Homo sapiens: one gene and its partners. The protein of the gene in region 1 interacts with the protein of each later gene in a pairwise test. Each region holds a gene or a part of one and is shown in the gene's direction. Other genes may lie near its edges. The genes, in order: ZNF131, PIP4K2B and MORN4.

The links.
Region 2: the proteins of ZNF131 (region 1) and PIP4K2B interact in binary tests that used the Homo sapiens proteins (3 or more experiments, as listed by UniProt).
Region 3: the proteins of ZNF131 (region 1) and MORN4 interact in binary tests that used the Homo sapiens proteins (3 or more experiments, as listed by UniProt).

What each region holds. Positions count from the first base shown.
Region 1 is NC_000005.10:43,123,829-43,130,937, forward strand, and holds part of ZNF131 (zinc finger protein 131), read left to right. Parts: intron 1-7,109. UniProt on the Homo sapiens protein: Plays a role during development and organogenesis as well as in the function of the adult central nervous system. May be involved in transcriptional regulation as a repressor of ESR1/ER-alpha signaling.
Region 2 is NC_000017.11:38,768,509-38,775,617, reverse strand, and holds part of PIP4K2B (phosphatidylinositol 5-phosphate 4-kinase type-2 beta), read left to right. Parts: intron 1-4,345; coding exon 4,346-4,604; intron 4,605-5,078; coding exon 5,079-5,182; intron 5,183-5,846; coding exon 5,847-5,927; 3' UTR 5,928-7,109. UniProt on the Homo sapiens protein: Participates in the biosynthesis of phosphatidylinositol 4,5-bisphosphate. Preferentially utilizes GTP, rather than ATP, for PI(5)P phosphorylation and its activity reflects changes in direct proportion to the physiological GTP concentration.
Region 3 is NC_000010.11:97,623,436-97,630,544, reverse strand, and holds part of MORN4 (MORN repeat-containing protein 4), read left to right. Parts: intron 1-7,109. UniProt on the Homo sapiens protein: Plays a role in promoting axonal degeneration following neuronal injury by toxic insult or trauma.

The sequences.
Region 1 (7,109 bases):
CTACAATGGGATGGATCAATACCTGTTACCTTGAAGCAAAAAGTGATTTTTGTACTTTCTAGACATTTTTCTAATAATAACCTGCCAAGTGCCAGGCGTTGTGATATGTAGTTTTGTGTATTGTCTAAGGCTCACAGCAATCGTTTGATGTTGGGCAGGATGGCTTGTGCTTGTAGTCCCAGCTACTCGGGAGGCTGAGGCAGGAGGATTGCTTGAGCCCAGGAGTTCGAGGCCAGCCTGGGGCAACATAGACCCTGTCTTTTCTTTTCTTTTCTTTTCTTTTCAAAAAGGGAAGTGGTGTTATTTGTAATAATTTACACTTCAGGAAGCAGGCTCTAAAAGGTTACTTGCCCAGGGTTGTCCAACTAGCAAGGAATTAAGTTTGTGCTATTAATTACCATGCTTTTTCTTCTGCTACTGCAGTAACTCCTCCCCTACCACCAGCATCAAAATCTAAAACAGCAGGAAATAAATGTTTGCCTACGTAATTACAGAATTTTAGCTTCTTTTAGGGTTCTTGGGTTTTGGTTTTATATCTATTTCATTGTGTACGTATTCTTTGTTCTGAATGGGTTGCCTAGAAACTCCTTTTTTCCCTTTGATGCCTAGGGGAGTAAAGAAAACAAAAAAGAGTTAAGAATATTCTTTAATTTTGGTATATTCCAGTTTAGCATTATAGCTGATATATTTACAGCTAGAGTATCTTTTAATATCTATAATCAGGACAGAGACATAATTATGAAAATCCACAAAACTTAATAAAGTGAGAATCTAACTGCCCAGATGATAGTGGTTTCTACTACAAAGCAAGCCTCCATGAATTCATTCACACCTGAGGTTTATTAAATATGTGACCCCAGGCGGGTTACTTTACCTCAATTGCATACTTTTCTCCTCATCTGAAAAGTGGGTTCATAGGATTATAAAGACTAATTGCGATAACATGCAGAGTGCATGGCATGATATTTGGTGCCTTGTCAAAGCTTGATAAACAGGGTCCAGTCTAAGAAACATTAGGGAGACCTCTTCTCTACAAAAAATTTAAAAAATTATTAGCTGAGTCTGATGGCACATGCCTGTGGTCCCAGCTATTCAGGAGGCTGAGGCGGGAGGATTGCTGGGGCCCAGGAGGTCAAAGCTGCAGTGAGCCATGATTTTGCCACTGCATTGTAGCCTGGGCGACAGAGCAAGGCCCTGTCTCAAAAAAAAAAAAAAAAAGTCAGTTTATCATATTGAATATCTATAATATATCATGTACTATGTTAGACCCAGGAGATGAAGAATTAATGAATAAGATGTCCCTTAAAGAAGTCGGAAAATTTCATAACAGGTGAGCAACAGGCAAATAAAGGAGTGCAAAAAGTATTACAAAGACTATTACTGTGAAATGGTATCACTGAAGAGGGAGAATGAGTGGTTTGGTCTTCCTTAGGAAAGATTTCAAAGAGGAGTTTTGAGTCTGAGCAGAATTTTTTTTTTCTTTTTTTTGGAGATAGATTTTAGCTCTTGTTACCCAGGCTGGAGTGCAATGGCGTGATCAGGCTGGTCTCGAATTCCCCACCTCAGGTGATCCACCCGCCTCTTCCTCCCAAAGTGCTGGGATTACAGGCGTGAGACCACGACTGGCCAAGTCTGAGCAGAATTTTTAAGTCTTAAAAAATAAGTGGCCTGGCCGGATGCGGTGGCTCACGCCTGTAATCCCAGCACTTTGGGAGGCCGAGGCAGGCAGATCACCTGAGGTCGAGAGGTCGAGACCAGCCTGACCAACATGGTGAAACCCTGTCTCTACTAAAAATATAAAATTAGCCGGGCGTGGTGGTGGGCACCTGTAATCCCAGCTACTCAGGAAGGCCGAGGCAGGAGAATCGCTTGAACCCGGGAGGCGGAGGTTGTAGCGAGCTGAGTCACGCCATTGCACTCCAGCCTGGGCAACAAGAGTGAAACTCCGTCTCAAAGAAAAAAAAAAGGAAAAGTGGCCCAAGCTGGAATATTTGTTGCTGGTAGAATGAGCACACATTACCTGGAGAAGTAGAAGTAGAGCCTGGTCTTCTGAAGACTAGTCACCTTGAGATTTAGGTCTGTGGCACACACAAGTCTTCAGTATTTGAATTCTAGATAGATAAGAAAGCAAAATAGACACACACTTTATTTCTGTCATTTGGTCAGATTCAGGTTTAAATAATTAATTTGGTTCAGTATCTTAAGCCCTTAACTTTGGGGTTACAGTACTGTCTAGCAAGGTCACCTGGCTGTGGAGAAAGCCCTGGGCATATAGTTAGTTAGAAAACTTGAGTTTTAGCCCTGGCTTTAACTGTTTGTGTGCTGTGTGACCTTAGATATCTTGGCTTCCTTATTTTTCATGTCACATAATTTTGGAGTATGTCATGGACATTTGAATATTTTGTTACAAAACTGGATGCTGTTAAAATCCTCTGGAAAATATTTTTGGTTTTTTGGTTTCACTTTAGCGGGCAGTTAACCTGGTTAGGTTCAGACTGCCTCTGTGGGCTGTGGATCCAGTTTGAACTTACTTTTCAAAACCTTCGTATTGCTGTTCAGGTCCCAGGTGTGCCATCCATGCCATTGTGCAGTTCTCAGCGCCTTTCCTCTGCCGCCTTGGGTCAGTTCACACATGGGCATGTTGGTGGTAAACTTGAGATTGTATACACAAATTTAGAGGACGTTTCTTCTCTCCGTGACTTCCCTTGTACACAAGCTCCCAAGAGTTTCTTTTCGTGGTTCTTTGGTGAGAAAACTGGAATTTTAGCTTCTTTGTGCTTTTCATACGTTTTCTGTAGAGGGGCTCATTTCCTGAACAAAATGGAGAGAGAGAAAAGTTAGAGAAAAAAATAAAATGAATTCCCTCTTCCATACTCTTCCGATCATCGTCTTTTTCCTAGTTCTTTTGTCAGAAGAACTCTCTTTTAGAGTTTAGGAGACAGCTACCAGCCACAGGTGTGCAGACTCAGGATTGGGGCTTGCTTTGAGGCAGAGCTGAGAGAGAAGAAAAATTACCAGATATCCACCCCTCCCCATTGTCCCTCTCCCATTCATCATCTTTTCTAGTTCTCTAGCCAGAAGGAGTTTCTCTTGGAACTTTTCTCTGTCTTCACTCACTGCACAGTTAATGAGATTTGGGCTGTCCTCAAGTCTAAGCTGACATATGTGGGAGAAAAAAACCAGGAAACTCACTACTGTTTTGAGTTTTGATTTCTCTCGCCAGTCTGCTTGCTTCAAATTACTTTTCAGAGTCCTTGTATATTTGCTTTATGTATTCTTTCCAGGATTTTTAGTAATAATCAATGGACAAGATAGGGTGGAGTGTGCTTTCTCCATCTTAGCTAGAACTGGGACCCCGTCCCCCACTCGTAAAATATAAATAATGACTTAGCATGGCACATTAGGTGGGCATTAGAGACACCAGGGAAGCGATTACAAATATAAATGCCCAGGTTGTATCTCCAGATAATTAAAAATCTTTCAGGAGTAGGATCCAGAAAACTATATTTAAAAGTTCTCTAGGTTCTTGATATACTATGTAGGTTGTGGTCTGAGGACCACTACATGGGGATCATTTGGAAACTTGTTAGAAATGTAGACTCAGGTTCCATTCCAGACCTGCTGAATTGGAACAAGATCCCCAGATGGTGCCTACGCACAGTAAAATTTGAGCAGCACTGCCCTAGCATGATTCTAGTGTGCAGTCAATGTTGAGGACCACTGTCTTAGAGGATTGCGTAAAAGCAAATGACGTGTATATAAATTTAGATTGTAATATTCTCTGAGTATAAACTCATTAGGTGCAAGCTGAGCTCACCCTCCATGTTTTCTGTGTTCCTGGTTAAAGTAAGTTACCTTTGATGAAAACCACAGGTTCATCTTTGACTTCAAATCAGATTTGTTGCTATTGAAGCTAATTGGATCCCAGCTCAGCTTTGTGGCTTGGATTCACACCATATAAAATCTTCAACAGACATTCATTCCTTTGTTCAGAACACACAACCTTCTAACGTGAACCTCCAATTTTCTAAATTCATTCTTTTTCTACTTCACCTGAAACCACAGATCCATGGCACTTAGTTTCTCTGTAACAGCAGCTCTACCATGGTGTCCAGAAATTTTAGCCCCTACTATCAAGAACAAAACATCCTTGTACATGTTTATACATCTTTTTGAGTAGGAGTTTTCCACCAGTTGCAGGGATTCCCTGAGTCTAGAGTAATGCCACAATGCTGCTCCCTTTTACTCCTTTCTAAGCATTTCTGTCAGGGAGAAGACTTAGATTCAGTTGTTCACTTTAACATTTTCCTTAGATACTCTCTTAGAAAAGTTGTATTCTGCGCACTTCTGTTATGAAGGGAGTAAGGGATTGCTGAGATTTGTTAAGTTACCAAACTAGTCTTGATAGATGTATAATTATTACATATCCACCATCACTTCATTTAGCTGGGCAAGTATTATCAGTTTGGTTCATGTTAGCTAATTAGGTCACTGGTTTGTTCCTAGGACAGTGTTGGGCTGGTCATATAAGTTAGAAGCACCTGGGAGCTGGGCATGGTGGCTCACGCCTGTAATCCCAGCACTTTGGGAGGCCGAGCGGGCGGATCATGAGGTCAGGAGATCGAGATCATCCTGGCTGACAGAGTGAAACCCCGTCTCTACTAAAAATACAAAAAAAATTAGCTGGGCATGGTGGTGGGCACCTGTAGTCCCAGCTACTTGGGAGGCTGAGGCAGGAGAATGGTGTGAACCTGGGAGGCGGAGCTTGCAGTGAGCTGAGATGGCGCCACTGCACTCCAGCCTGGGCGACAGAGCGAGACTCCATCTCAAAAAAAAAAAAAAAAAAAAACACACCTGGGGTGCTCATAATAAAAAAAACAAAAACCCAGATATTTATCCCAGTTTTGATTCCAAAGATCAGGTACCAGTACTTTCTTTTTGGAGACAGGGTCTTGCTCTGTCACCCAGGCTGGAGTGCAGTGTACCATCATGGCTCATTGCAACCTTGACCTCCTGAGTTCAAGCAGTCCTCTCACCTCAGCCTTCTAACTACAAGCACATACCACCAAGGCCAGCTAGTCTTTGTATTTTTATTTATTATTTATTATTATTACTATTTTTGAGACGGAGTCTCACTCTGTTGCCCAGGTTGGGGTGCAGTGTGGTGTGATCTTGGCTTACTGCAGTCTCCGCCTCCCGGGTTCAAGCAATTTTCATGCCTCAGCCTCACAAGTAGCTGGAATTAAGGCTCCCACCACCATGCCCAGCTAATATTTTTTGTATTTTTAGTAGAGATAGGGTTTCACCATGTTGGCCAGGCTGGTCTCAAACTCCTGACCTAAAGTGATCTGCGTGCTTCAGCCTCCCAAAGTGCTGGTATTGCAGGCATGAGCCACCATGCCCAGCCTAGTTTTTGTATTTTTTGTAGAGAAGAGATCTCACTACTTTGCCCATGCTGGTCTTGAACTACCAGCCTTAAGCAATGCTCCTGCCTTGGCCTCCCATAGTGCTAGGATTACAGGCATGAGCCACCACACCCAGCCCTTGGTACCAGTACTTTATTTAGTCTATAGGTGATTCTCATCAGTCAGGACAGGGAGCTAGGTCCACAATTCCTTATTCAAATCTTCTCGGAGGCCAGACATACTTCTCAACATTCCAGATTTTAGAATTTTTCTAAGGGTAATGAAAAACATAATACTCACAAATACTAATAGTTTAGCAGCATAGCATGTTAGTATTCACTCTTAAGTGGGATAAAGATGACATAGCCCCATGTTAGCTGAGATCAAATTTTGCTGCCAGATTTATGGAGAAACTTCTGTGTTTTTTGTTTGTTTGTTTGAGATGGAGTCTTGCTCTGTCACCCAGGCTGGAATGCAGTGGCACAATCTCGGCTCACTACAGCCTCTGCCTCCTGGGTTCAAGCAGTTCTCCTGCCTCAGCCTCCCCAGTGGCTGGGATTACAGGTGCGTGCCACCACGCCCGGCTACTTTTTGTATTTTTAGTAGAGACGGCGGGGTTTCACCATGTTGGTCAAGCTGGCCTCAAACTCCTGACCTCGTGATCTGCCTGCCTCGGCCTCCCAAAGTGCTGGGATTAGAGGCATGAGCCACCACACCCAGCCGAAACTTCTGGTTTTAAGAGAAATGGGAGGCCAGGCGCGGTGGCTCATGCCTGTAATCCCAGCACTTTGGGAGGCCGAGGTGGGCAGATTGCCTGAGCTCAGGAGTTCGAGACCAGCCTGGGCAACACGGTGAAACCGTCTCTACTGAAAATACAAAAATTAGCCGGACATGGCAGCGCGTGCCTGTAGTCCCAGCTACTGGGGAGGCTGAGGCAGGAGGATTGCTTGAACCTGAGAGGTGGAGATTGCAGTGAGCTGAGATCAGGCCACTGCACTCCAGCCTGAGCGATAGAGTAAGACTCTGTCTCCAAAAAAAAAAAAAAAAAAGAGGAAAGTAGAGGCAATGTAGCTGAGAGATAATAAGACAGAATCAAAAAGTTCTGGCATTGATTCAGTATGGTGGTGAGGGAGAGAAAGAAATAATGTATACATTTTGTGAAATGAGTAATATAAAAGTAAGAGCAGATTCAAAATGATATTTTTTCTTTGATAACTTTCTTCTCCTAACTTCAAAATTAATTTTCCTGAGTGTTAATAGTGCTGGTTGTTAAATGAGAAAAGTTTTGAAGTGGTTGATGTTTCGATTCTTTTACCACATTTTTTAATTTTAATTTTAATTTTTTTTTGAGACAGCGTTTTGCTCTTGTTGCCCAGGCTGGAGTGCAATGGTGTGATCTCGGCTCACCGCAACCTCCGCCTCCCGGGTTCAAGCGATTCTCTTGCCTCAGCCTCTCGAGTAGCTGGGATTACAGGCATGCACCACCATGCCCAACTCATTTTTTGTATTTTTAGTAGAGATGGGGTTTCTCCATGTTGGTCAGGCTGATCTCGAACTCCCGATCTCAGATGATCCACCTGCCTCGGCCTCCCAGAGTGCTGGGATTACAGGCATGAGCCACCACGCCCGGCTCTTTTGTTTGTTTTTTGAGATGGAGTCTCACTCTGCCACCCAGGCTGGAGTGCAGTGGCATGATCTCAGCTC
Region 2 (7,109 bases), on another chromosome or scaffold:
CCAGAGTGCTGGGATTACAGGCGTGAGCCACCACACCTGGCCAGAATTTCTTTCTTTTTAAAGCTGAATAAGGCTGAGCATGGTGGCTAACACCTGTAATCCCAGCAGCTCAGGAGGCTGAGGCAGAAGGACTGCTTGAGGCCAGAAGTTGGAGACCTGGGCAATTTACTGAGATCCTGTCTCTACAAAAAATTAAAAACTAGCTGGGTGTGGTGACATGTGCCTGTAGTCCTAGCTATTCAGGAGGCTGGGTGGGAGGATCCCTTGTGCCTAGGAGTTCACGGTTGTGGTGAGCTATGATCATGCCACTGTGCATCAGCCTGAACTAGAGGGTAAGACCCCATCTCTTTAAAAAACAAAACAAAAGCTAGGCGCGGTGGCTCACGCTTGTAATCCCAGCACTTTGGGAGGCCAAGGCAGGCGGATCACGAGGTCAGGAGATCGAGACCATCCTGGCTAACACGGTGAAACCCCGTCTCTACTAAAAATGCAAAAACAAAATTAGCCAGGTGTGGTGGTGGGCGCCTGTAGTCCCAGCTACTCGGGAGGCTGAGGCAGGAGAATGGCATGAACCCGGGAGACGGAGCTTGCAGGGAGCCGAGATCGTGCCACTGCACTCCAGCCTGGGCGACAGAACGAGACCTCATCTCAAAAACACACACACACACACACACACAAAAACTGATTAATATTCCATTGTATGGATGTATTACATTTTGTTTATTCATCAGTTAATGGACACTTGTTATATCAGTTGGGGTTCTCCAGAGAAACAAAACCTATAGGATGTTTTGTAAATCTCTTTATACCAAGATATTTATTTTTTATTTTATTTATTTATTTTTTTTGAGACAGAGTCTTGCTCTGTCACCCAGGCTGGAGTACAGTGGCGCGATCTTGGCTCACTGCAAGCTCCGCCTCCCGGGTTCACGCCATTCTCCTGCCTCAGCCTCCCGAGTAGCTGGGACTACAGGCGCCCACCACCATGCCCAGCTAGTTTTTTTTGTATTTTTAGTAGAGATGGGGTTTCACCATGTTAGCCAGGATGGTCTTGATCTCCTGACCTCATGATCTGCCTGCCTCGGCCTCCCAAAGTGCTGGGATTACAGGTGTGAGCCACCACGCCCGGCCCTAAGAGATTTATTTTAAGGAATTGTTTCATGGGATTATGGATACCAACGAGATCTGCAGTCAGCAAGCCGGAGGCCCAGGAGAGCTGGTGGTGTGGTTTTATTCTACAGGCCATCAGGCCACCAGGCAGAAGGAGTTCCCTCTTCCTCACCGGAGGGTCACCCTTTTTCTTCTCTTCAGGCCTTCTGCTGATTGGATGATGCCCATCCACACTGGGGAGGGCCATCTGCTTTACTCAGTCCACCAGTTCAATGCTCATTTCACCCAGAAACCCTCACAGACACACCCAGAATAATGCTTGACCAAGTGTCTGGGCACTCAGGCCCAGTCCAGCTGGCATATACAATTAGCCATCACACTTAGGTTGCTTCCACCTTGTAGCTGTTGGGAATAATGCTACTGTGAACATGGGTGTCATAAACTTCGTTTTGCTAGGAAGCGTTTCCTTAGTCACCCCCAACTATGTTCTTTCCTTATTCTGCCTTTCATCATCTGACATTATTTGTCCTGAGTCTTTGTCCTTCTCCCTTTTCTACCCTCTCCCCCTACTGTGGTTCTGAGAAGAATTTAATGCAGTTTACTCAGTGCATTTGTTTTCAATGCATGTTGCTTTATAAATGTTCTCAGGTGGGTGGAGGGCATGGTGCATGGACCTTCTTTTTCCTGGGACCCTAGCCCCTTCTCCCTGGGCCTTGAGAAGGCTTTGTCTGGAAGTGCTCAGAGTGGCATCCCTCCCTCCCTTCCTCTTCCAAGGAGATCCTGCTGGGCTCCCATCTTTAGGGCTCCTTGTCCTTAGTTGTGTTCTGGGCTCGTGCATAGAGCTGCTCTGCTTCCATGATGATTCTCCTCCTAGTTCTCTGTTAGGACCTAACATGGTGGTCAGTCTAACAGTCTCCTAGTGACCACTGTATGATGGTGACTGCACTCTTGCCTCATTATTAGCTAAACTGGAATGCTAGCTGGCCATTTCCATCCTGTATCATTCCATACTTTGTCTTGAAATCCTAGATAAAAGACTTGAACCACCACCCTGCTCACAGCACCCATTATACAGATGAGAAAACTAAGGCTTGGCAAGGGGAGTCACATGATGCTAGGGGAGGACTTTCCCCCAGCACCACACAGCCTCTTTTGACCTTCAGGGAATGGGTTGAGAATATTGGTTGGTTCTGGCTGCCATTCTTGTATGGTTTTGTGTTCCCTTTTCCTTTTTTTTCTATTTTTACCTGGGCTGAAAAGTCGATGACATAGTTTTTTCAGACTTTGTCTCTGAGGCCAGTTAGAAGTATATTTTACCTTGCAACCCAATGGATACACACAACTGAAACACTGTCTACCCTTATTTTCTGTCATGTATTCTGATATTTTCTATTCTATTTTATTATACAGTAGTCCCCCCTTATCAGCAGGGGACATGTTCCAAGATCCCCAGTGGACGCCTGAAGCCACAGATAGTACTGAACCCTGTATATACTATGCGTGAATTTTTTTTCCTTCTTCACAATTTCACGGATAGAAGATTTGTTCTTACAGGAGATCTTAGCAACCTCAGCATGCAATTTATTTTCTTTGTAAGTCAAGAGCTTTCACCTTTTCACTTAAAGCTGGCCAGGTGCAGTGGCTCACACCTGTAATCCCAGCACTTTTGGGAGGCTGAGGCAGGTGGATCACTTGAGGTCAGGAGCTCGAGACCAGCCTGGCCAACATGATGAAACTGTCTCTACTAAAAATACAAAAATTAGCTGAGTGTGGTGGTGCATGCCTGAAGTCCCAGCTACTTGGGAGGCTGAGACAGGAGAATCACTTGAACCTGGGAGGTGGAGGTTGCAGTGAGCCGAGATTGCACCAGTGCACTCTAGCCTGGTGACAGAGCAAGACTCTGTCTCAAAAAAAGAAAGCACTTTATGGCTTCTCTTTGGCATATCTGAATTGCCAACATCACTACTCTTGCTCTGTGGAGTCATAATGAAGTCAAATATGGGTTACTTGAATACAAGCACTGTGATACAACTATAGTGAACTGATAACCAAGACAGCTACGGACAGCTACTGAAAGACTAATGGGACGTTAGTGCATACAGTGTGGATATACTGCACAAAGGGATAATCTGCATCCTGGGCAGCACTGAATGGGACATAGCAAGATTTTATCATGCTACTCGGAATGGTACACTATTTAAAAACTTATGAATTATTTCTGGAATTTTCCATTTAATATTTTTGGACTGTAGTTGACCACAGGTAACTGAAACCATTGTGGATAAGGGTGGACTACTGCATTTAATTTAAAGAAATCCTAGTTCCAGCCCACTACATTGGGTTTAGGACTCATAATGGGTTGAAATTTTGATCTGAAATATATTGTTGTGTCATATCCATCGCTCCATCCTCTTCCATAGTATATCATTTCATTATTTCTTTCCTCAAACTTGGCCATGGCCTCTTTTTTTAAAACAAGAGACAGGGTCTCACTCTGTTCCCCAGGCTTGAGTGCAATAGTGCCGTCATAGCTTACTGCAGCCTCAAATTCCTGGGCTCACGCGATCCTCCCACTTGAGCCTCCCAAGTAGGTAGGACTACAGGTGTGCACTGCCACGCCCAGCCAATTTTTAAATTTTTTTGTAGAGATGGGGTCTCATCACGTTGCTGAGGCTGGTCTCAAACTCCTGGCCTCAAGTGATCCTCCTTAATTGGCCTCCCAAAGTTCTGGGATTACAGGCATGAGCCACCGTGCCCAGCCACCATGGCCTCTCTTGATCCCAAACCGTCATGGGCTGTTCCCTCTTCCTGCAGTGCTCGTTCTATCTTTAACCTGCAGTACTTGCCTCACTGACTCCTCTTCATCCTTGGCCTCAACTCCTTTCTTCAGGGAGGGTCTTGCTCACCCCTCACTGTAAACTCCCACAGCTCCTTGCTTTTTTTTTTTTTTTTTTTTTTTTTGAGACCATCTCCCTCTGTTACCCAGCTAGAGTGCAGTGGTGTGATCACAGCTCACTGCAGCCTCGACCTCCTGCCTTTCCCCTGCTGAATGACTGTCTTCCCCATTAGAGAGAGCTCGCGAGGGCGGGTGCTCTGATGCCTTACTCTCTGTTGAATTTCAAAACTGTTTGTAGAATTGAGTTGAAAGGAATGCCTTTCCCCCCTTTCTGGATGTCACTGGGATGTCCTGTGTAACCTCTTCTTCCTTCCATCTTTCCATCCTTGCCCTTCCTAGTTCTTGGCACAGCTGAAGATCATGGACTACAGCCTGCTGGTGGGCATCCACGACGTGGACCGGGCAGAGCAGGAGGAGATGGAGGTGGAGGAGCGGGCAGAGGACGAGGAGTGTGAGAATGATGGGGTGGGTGGCAACCTACTCTGCTCCTATGGCACACCTCCGGACAGCCCTGGCAACCTCCTCAGCTTTCCTCGGTTCTTTGGTCCTGGGGAATTCGACCCCTCTGTTGACGTCTATGCCATGAAAAGCCATGAAAGTAAGTCAGAGCCTGCGCCTGCTCTGCACAGCCCTGCCCTCATCCTACCCCCTCAGCTCATTGTTTAGATCCTTCTAGGGGCATCTGGACCTCCACCTCATTCATTGCTGCCTTTGACCTCTTTCTGCCTCCAGATTCCCATCCAGGGTCACCACCTGAACCTGGGGCTCCTCCTCTGCCAGGCTTTCCTATACTTCCCTGCTTGTCCTGGCTGACTGAAGAGTGGTTCTGCTCTGGTTCATGAGATGAACCAAACTTTATTCATACTGTCCTGTCAGCCCCACAGAGTGACTGTGAAGATCCAATAAGATAAGAGCTATGACAGCTGGAAAGGACTCCACTGGTCCTTTTCTCAGCCCCAACATGATAAGGATGGAGCTGAGCCTTGTGTCTGGGGGTTGTAGCAGTGCCCAGCTGCTGTCTGCCCTTCTCCTGCCCCCTCTTCCTTCTTCCCTGCTCTCCTTGTCCCTCCAGGTTCCCCCAAGAAGGAGGTGTATTTCATGGCCATCATTGATATCCTCACGCCATACGATACAAAGAAGAAAGCTGCACATGCTGCCAAAACGGTGAAACACGGGGTGAGTCCTCTCCATCTTCATCCAGGGCCCAGCTGGGTCGGTGCATCTGTGCTTACCCTCAGACCCCAGGGAGGGCAGTCTCAGGCCTCCTGCTCCAAGGAACACACTCCTGTCTCCTTCTTCCCAGGAGAGCAGACTGGAAGAGCAGCCTGCCTGCCTTGCCATGTTCCCTGCCTTCACCCACCTGCTCCCTGCCAGGCTGGGCCCAATTTGTTTATCCCCCAGTTCTCCAGCCCTCGGGGCCAAGCCTGCCAGTGTCTTTCCCCAGGGCCTGCTGGGCCTGTTGTGCATCTTGTTGAAGGGCGAGTAATAGCTTTGTTTCCATGCCCATACTGCTCCCCACAGGCCTGTTTCCCTGTGGGCCTGAAGCCCTGTTCTCCATGTAGTGGCCCCCACAGAGATCCAGAGCCGCGTTGCCACCTCCCCACTGCCTTTCTTCTACTTCGGTGCAGGCCTGGGGTTATAAATCACAGGAGTGGGGCCAGGACAGTTCAGGACTTGTATGCCACTTCCTGAGGTGGTCTGCTCAGTCTTGGTGGGGTTGGGGGTGGTATTCAGCTCTGATACTGAGTAAGAGGCTTCTGAATACCCTGGCTCCCCCCATGTGCAGCCTCCTGATTGGGGCACAGGAACTCAACCTGAATCAGCCTCTTGTGTATTACAGGCAGGGGCCGAGATCTCGACTGTGAACCCTGAGCAGTACTCCAAACGCTTCAACGAGTTTATGTCCAACATCCTGACGTAGTTCTCTTCTACCTTCAGCCAGAGCCAGAGAGCTGGATATGGGGTCGGGGATCGGGAGTTAGGGAGAAGGGTGTATTTGGGCTAGATGGGAGGGTGGGAGCAGAGTCGGGTTTGGGAGGGCTTTAGCAATGAGACTGCAGCCTGTGACACCGAAAGAGACTTTAGCTGAAGAGGAGGGGGATGTGCTGTGTGTGCACCTGCTCACAGGATGTAACCCCACCTTCTGCTTACCCTTGATTTTTTCTCCCCATTTGACACCCAGGTTAAAAAGGGGTTCCCTTTTTGGTACCTTGTAACCTTTTAAGATACCTTGGGGCTAGAGATGACTTCGTGGGTTTATTTGGGTTTTGTTTCTGAAATTTCATTGCTCCAGGTTTGCTATTTATAATCATATTTCATCAGCCTACCCACCCTCCCCATCTTTGCTGAGCTCTCAGTTCCCTTCAATTAAAGAGATACCCGGTAGACCCAGCACAAGGGTCCTTCCAGAACCAAGTGCTATGGATGCCAGATTGGAGAGGTCAGACACCTCGCCCTGCTGCATTTGCTCTTGTCTGGATTAACTTTGTAATTTATGGAGTATTGTGCACAACTTCCTCCACCTTTCCCTTGGATTCAAGTGAAAACTGTTGCATTATTCCTCCATCCTGTCTGGAATACACCAGGTCAACACCAGAGATCTCAGATCAGAATCAGAGATCTCAGAGGGGAATAAGTTCATCCTCATGGGATGGTGAGGGGCAGGAAAGCGGCTGGGCTCTTGGACACCTGGTTCTCAGAGAACCCTGTGATGATCACCCAAGCCCCAGGCTGTCTTAGCCCCTGGAGTTCAGAAGTCCTCTCTGTAAAGCCTGCCTCCCACTAGGTCAAGAGGAACTAGAGTACCTTTGGATTTATCAGGACCCTCATGTTTAAATGGTTATTTCCCTTTGGGAAAACTTCAGAAACTGATGTATCAAATGAGGCCCTGTGCCCTCGATCTATTTCCTTCTTCCTTCTGACCTCCTCCCAGGCACTCTTACTTCTAGCCGAACTCTTAGCTCTGGGCAGATCTCCAAGCGCCTGGAGTGCTTTTTAGCAGAGACACCTCGTTAAGCTCCGGGATGACCTTGTAGGAGATCTGTCTCCCTGTGCCTGGAGAGTTACAGCCAGCAAGGTGCCCCCATCTTAGAGTGTGGTGTCC
Region 3 (7,109 bases), on another chromosome or scaffold:
GCTGAAGGGAATTTGCTATATGTGCCTAAGTCAAAATGGAATGGAAGTTTGTAGTATGTACTGTTGAAAACCAATGGGAGAGGATGGTGGGAGGGTTAGGTTGAAACATGGTATTCCAGTTATTATTGCTGTATAACAAAGTACCCCAGAATTTAGCAGCTTAAAACACCCATACTGTGGCCAGGCGCGGTGGCTCATGCCTGTAATCCCAGCACTTTGGGAGGTTGAGGAGGGCGGATCATGAGATCAGGAGATCAAGACCATCCTGGCTAACACAGTGAAACCTCATCTCTACTAAAAATACAAAAAATTAGCCGGGGCCGGGCACAGTGGCTCATGCCTGTAATCCCAGCACTTCGGGAGGCTGAGGCAGGCGGATCACAAGGTCAGGAGATCGAGACCATCCTGGCTAACATGGTGAAACCCCGTCTCCACTAAAAATACAAAAAAAAATTAGCTGGGCATGGTGGCGGGCGCCTGTAGTCCCAGCTACTGGGGAGGCTGAGGCAGGAGAATGGCGAGAACCTGGGAGGCAGAGCTTGCAGTAAGCTGAGATCGTGCCACTGAACTCCAGCCTGGGAGACAGCAAGACTCCGTCTCAAAAAAAAAAAAAAAAAAATTAGCTGGGCGTGGTGGCGAGCACCTGTAGTCCCAGCTACTCAGGAAGCTAAGGCAGGAGAATTGCTTGAACCCGGGAGGCGGAGCTTGCAGTGAGCCGAGATCACACCACTGTACTCCACCCAGCGTGACAAAGCGAGACTCTGTCTCAAAAAACAAAACAAACAAACAAAAAAAAAACACCCATATGATGCTCATGGATTCTGTGGGTGAGGGAATTTGGACCTGGCACCATGGGGAGGCCTCTCTCTGCTCCCTGATATGGGATGGAATGCAGGCTCAATGGCTGAGGGCTGGAATCATCTGAAGGCTCCTTCACTGATGCCTGGTACGTGGGATAGGATGATTCAAAGGTAAGGGCAGCCAACTGGAACACCAATATATGGCTTTTCTGTGTGGCTTGGCTTTCAGTGTTAGCCTCTGTGTAGTCAGGCTTTTTATGTGGTGGCTCGGGTCTCCAAGTGTGAGTGTATCAGTGACAAGATGGAAGTTGCATCACCTTTTATGATCTAACCTCAGAACACACCACCATTTTCTTTTGAGACAGAGTTTCACTCTTGTTGCCCAGGCTGGAGTGCAATGGCGCGATCTTGGCTCACTTCAACCTCCGCCTCCTGGGTTAAGCAATTCTCCTGCCTCAGCCTCCCAAGTAGCTGGGATTACAGGCATGGGCCACCACACCCAGCTAATTTTGTATTTTTAGTAGAGATGGGGTTTCTCCATGTTGGTCAGGCTGGTCTTGAACTTCCGACCTCAGGTGATCCGTCCGCCTCGGCCTCCCAAAATGCTAGGATTACAGGCATGAGCCACCACGCCCGGCCCACACCATCATTTTCATTGTGTTCTTTTGGTCCAAGCAGTCACAAGCCTACTCAGATTCAAGGGAGGGGAGGTAGATTTCACCTTTTAATGGATCAATGGCCAGATCAAATTGTAGACAAACATGTAAGACAGAAGATACTGTTGCAAACATCTTGGAAATACAGTCCGCCACATTTGGTAATAAGAAGGTAACCTTTTCAGTTTCATTGGCTTCCTTAAAATATTTAGGGTATAATCCCCAAGAGCTAACAGCATACTAAAAAAGTGGTTAGGGGCTGGGCGTGGTGGCTCATGCCTATAATCCCAGCACTTTGGGAGTCCAAGGCAGGCAGATCACATGAGGCCAGAAGTTTGAGACCAGCCTGGCCAACATAGTGAAACCCCATCTCTACTAAAAATATGAAAATTAGCTGGCCGTGCTGGCACGCCTGTAATCCCAGCTACTCAGGAGGCTGAGGCACGAGAATCTCTTGAGCCTGGGAGGCGGAGGTTGCAGTGAGCCAAGATCATGCCATTAGACTTCAGCCTGTGTGACACAGTGAGACTGTGTCTCAAAAAAAAAAAAAGAAAGAAAAAAAGTGGTTAGGTGTACCACTTGAAAACTAGTACTTTGTCCGTAAATAACCCTCAAACTGGAGAAATGTTCCCTTCTTTCAGCAATCTTATACTGTTCCTTCTGGAACAAGGTAGAATGCCACTCTTTGGAAGTTTCACGTAGCCTTGAGAAAAAGTAAATAAATACAAGGCAGTACTTTCCCTGAGTCCCTGTGTAGTCAATATGACTCCTCAAATCCCACTGCAATAACTCCTTCCAAATTTTGAGTGAAAACAAGTTGGTTAACTGCTGCCAGACATCTAAAGGAAATGCTCTTATAATCTTTTTGTATAAATAGTGATTTTGTGTTTAGGTTTTGGAATGGTTGTTTAATTATAAGATTTAGTGGAAGATACAGCCCTTCAGATTCTAACTGATGTGTTTTGAAGGAATGAAACTTCAACCATAAGCTGACTTTTAGTGCTGTAACTTAGTTCTGGGAAGAGCTGAGGATTGCCTGATCAAAATGCCCGTCTGTACTGGAAAGCGTTTTCTTCTGCTATTCTGATGGAAAACTACTTCTCATGCTCTCATTAATGTTATATTTGCAATGGAGTCATGTTGGCCTCTACCCCAGCACACTCTGATGCTGGGCTGGTGATAAGAGGCTTGTGAGCCTGAAATTGGATGCTGACCTTGTGGGACATTGATAGGACAGAGATGACATGGCAAGTACCAGCATCACGTCTCAGAAAATAGCTCCCAGAGGTTTGGAGGGAGTTTACTACAAGAAGATAATGGTCCTTGCCTCGGATATCTTCTGTGTGAGAGATACTGGAAATGGAATGCTTGACTGATAACTGAAGAAGGGAGAAAGTCCTATGGGAGTGGCCCCCAAATATCTCTAGAAGAGTCTCCACAAGGTTGCCCTTCATTTAGGCGAGAAATGAATCTTTTCTCTTATTTGGGTGAGAGCACAGGGATTCTTATAACTCGTCTGTCCTCATGGCTGGGACAGAGCCAGGGCGTAGAAGATGTCATTGAACCCTGCTCTGGTCAGGCCTAGCTGTTTTCACATTAGACCATTTCTGGGCTTTTGGTGTCTGTATCAAAAATCATTATGTTCTGGCTGGGCGCGGTAGCTCACGCCTGTAATCTAGCACTTTGGGAGGCCGAGGTGGGCAGATCACATGAGGCCAGGAGTTCAAGACCAGCCTGGCCAACATGGTGAAACCCTGTCTCTGCTAAAAATACAAAAAGTAGCTAGGCGTGGTGGCACACACCTGTAATGCCAGCTACTCAGGAGGCTGAAGCACGAGAATTGCTTGAACCCAGGAGACGAAGGTTGCAGTGAGCTGAGATCGAGCCACTGCACTTCCACCTGGGTGACAGAGTGAGAGTGTCTCAAAAAACAAAAAACAAAAAAAAAAAGGTGTTCAGGTCCCTCTGCTGAAGCTACTCAGCAAAGTCACCAGCACCAGTCTCCATTAAACAAACAAACAAACAAAAATCAGGCCGGGCACAGTGACTCATGCCTGTAATCCCAGCACTTTGGGAGGCCAAGGCGGGAGGATCACCTGAGGTCAGGAGTTCAAGACCAGCCTGGCCAACATGGTAAAACCCTGTCTCTACTGAAAATACAAAATTAGCTGGGCGTGGTGGCAGGGGCCTGTAATCCCAGCTACTTGGGAGGCTGGGGCAAGAGAATCGCTTGAACCTGGGAGGCAGAGGTTACAGTGAGCTGAGACTGCACCATTGCACTCCAGCCTGGGCCACAGGAATGAAACTCTGTCTAAAAAAAAAAAAAAAAAAAAATCTGGGCACAGTGGCTCATGCCTGTAATCCCAGCACTTTGGAAGGCTGAGATGGGTGGCTCACCTGAGGTCAGGAGTTCGAGACCAGCCTGACCAACATGGTGAAGCCCTGTCTCTACTAAAAATACAAAAATTAGCCAGCCATGGTGACGGTCACCTGAAATCCCAGCTATTCGAGAGGCTGAGGCAGGAGAATTACTTGAACTCGGGAGGTGGAGGTTGCAGTGAGCCGACATTGCACCACTGCACTCCAGTCTGGGCCACAGAGCAAGACTCCGTTTCAAGAAAAAAAAAAAAAGAGAGAGAACAAGCATCAGAACATATTATGATTATGATTATGATTATGATTATGATTATGATTATTATTATTATTATTTTTGAGTCAGAGTCTCGCTCTGTCACCCAGGCTGGAGACCAGTGGCATGATCTTGGCTCACTGCAACCTCCACCTCCCAGATTCAAGTGATTCTCCTGTCTCAGCCTCTCAAGTAGCTGGGACTACAGGCATGTGCCACCACGCCTGGCTAATTTTTGTGTTTTTAGTAAAGACAGGGCTTCACCATGTTGGCCAGGCTGGTCTCGAACTCCTGACCTCAGGTGATCCATCTTAGCCTCCCAAAGTGCTGGGATTACAGGCGTGAGCCACTGTGCCCAGCCCGCTTGTTCTCTTTAAAAAAAAAAAAAAAAAAGGCATGAGGCTGGGTGTGGTGGCTCATGCTTATAATCCTAGCACTTTCGGAGGCCAAGGCCAGAGATTGCTTGAGGCTAGGAGTTTGAGATTAGCCTGGGCAACATAGTGGGACACGGTCTCTACAAAAAAGTTAGTTGGGCATGGTGGTGTGTGCCTATAGTCCTAGCTACTTGGGAGGCTGGGGCAGAAGGGTTGCTTGAGCCCACAAGTTCAGGGTTGCAGTGAGTTATGATCAAGCGATTGCACACCAGCATGGGCAACAGAGCGACACACTGTCTCCTTAAAAAACAAAAAATCGTTATGACATGAGGCCAAAATAAAAATATCCTGTAGGATGTTGATAAAGAGTGGATGGGTGGCAACTATAGTTTGTTTTTCCTCTACTTAGTATTCAGCTCTTTAGTCAAAATTGCTGAGATTTTCTTTTTCAAAGTGTTGTTTGAATTACATTGGTAGCAGTTTTTACTGAGGAAAGACCTAGAGAAGTTTTCATTACAGTAAGTATATGTGTGAGTTTAAGTGTAAAACTTTGAAAGAGGAAAGAAACTAACATTTAGTGGACAGGCCCTAGCAGTGTTCTAGGTACTTACGTGTGTGTCATTTTCTTTCTTTTATTTTTCTTTTCTGTCACCCACTGACTCTCAGATATTTAATTTAATCCACCTGCCAACTATGTGAAATACATATCTTATCTCCACTTTACAGATGAGGAGACTGAGATTTAGAGATACTTAAATACCTTGCCCATAATTATACAGTGAACTCATATTTGAACTCAAGTCCTCCTGTGCTCAGAGTCTACAACACCACCATATTATCCTGGGAGGCCAGATAGGATAGTATGGTATAAGTTAGCAAGTTACTGTAAGAACTTGTGCCAGCAAGGCCAGCTGTCAGAGCTCTGATTCTAACTTTCACGTGTTAGTTTCCACATGTATGACCTTAGTTAATTTACTTATCCTCTCTGCACCTTAGTTTCCTCATCCCTAAAGTGGAAATAATAATAATACCCACCCCAAAAAGTTGTTGTGAGATGAAATTAGATAATATATTTTAAAAACACTGATGCTCATGCCGTGTGCGGTGACTCACGCCTGTATTCTTAGCACTTTGGGAGGCCGCGGCAGGTGGATCACCTGAGGTCAGGATCACCTGAGGTCACCTGACCAACATGGTGAAACCCCATCTCTACTGAAAATACAAAATTAGCCAGGCGTGGTGGCGCATGCCTGTAATCCCAGCTACTTGGGAGGCTGAGGCGGAGGTTGGAGTGAGCAAAGATCGCGCCATTGCACTCCAGCCTGGGGAAGAATAACAGTGAAACTCCGTCTCAAAAACAAAACAAAACAAAAAACACTGATGCTCACACCAGTAATCCCAGCTACTTGGGAAGCTGATGAGGAAGAATCACTTGAGGCCAGGAGTTCGGGACCAGTCTAGGCACCATAGCGATACCCATCTCAACAAAAAATTTGAAAAGTAGCTGGGTGTGTTGGCACACACCTCTAGTCCCAGCTACTGGAGAGGATGAAGCGGGAGGATCACTTTAGCCCAGAAGTTTGAGACTGCAGTGAGCTCTAATCACAATCACACTACTGCATTCCAGGCTGGGTAACTGAGTGAGACCCCATCTCTTAAAACAAAACAAATAAACAACACTGATGGAACACAGTAAGAGGTCAGTAAATGTTAGCTTCTGTTATAAAGGTATTTCAGACAGCTTCTCTGGGGTTAGTGCAATTGATTATTAGAGAGGGTTGTGCCACCTGAATTGAAATATAAATAATCTAGCACTGTCCACCATGACAATGTGGAGAAAGCAAATTTAACATATGGGTTGTTTTAGTTGAACATTTAAAGCATCACTTTTGCATAAAATATACCAGACCCCTTTTGTGCTATGAAACTATGGAACCCACTCTTTGGAACTCCATCTTGACTGGATGAGGTTTTGGCTTCCCTGGGACTTGAAGGAAAAGGAAGCTAGCTGTTGGCGCCAGGCCCCCGAGATTTAAGAATCCCATCTTGCGGCCAGGCACGGTGGCTCATGCCTGTAATCCCAGCACTTTGGGAGGCCAAGGCGGGCGGATCACGAGGTCAGGAGATTGAGACCATCCTGGCTAACACGGTGAAACTCCATCTCTACTAAAAAATACAAAAAGTTAGTGGGGCGTCGTGGTGGGCACCTGTAGTCCCAGCTACTCGGGAGGCTGAGGCAGGAGAATGGCATGAACCCGGGAGGCAGAGCTTGCAGTCAGCCGAGATCATGCCACTGCACTCCAGCCTGGGCAACAGAGTGAGACTCTGTCTCAAAAAAAGAAAAAAAAAAAAAAAGAATCCCGTCTTGTTTTGAGCTGGGAGCAGTGGCATGCACCTGTAGTTCCAGCTACTCAGAAGTCTAAGAGGGGATTGGAGGATCTCTTGAACCTAGGAGTTCAAGTCCAGCCTGGGTAACATAATGAGACCCTGTCTCTAAAAGAAAAAAGAATTCTTTCCTGTTTCTCCACCAGGTCTGGCCCCAGTACTCTGAGGAGAATGTGTCCTTGTCCTGTTGGAACTCAGTCAGATGCCTGAGGGTCAGACTCTAGGTTACTTATTAATCAGAGGGGACTTTTTTTTTGGAGGGGGA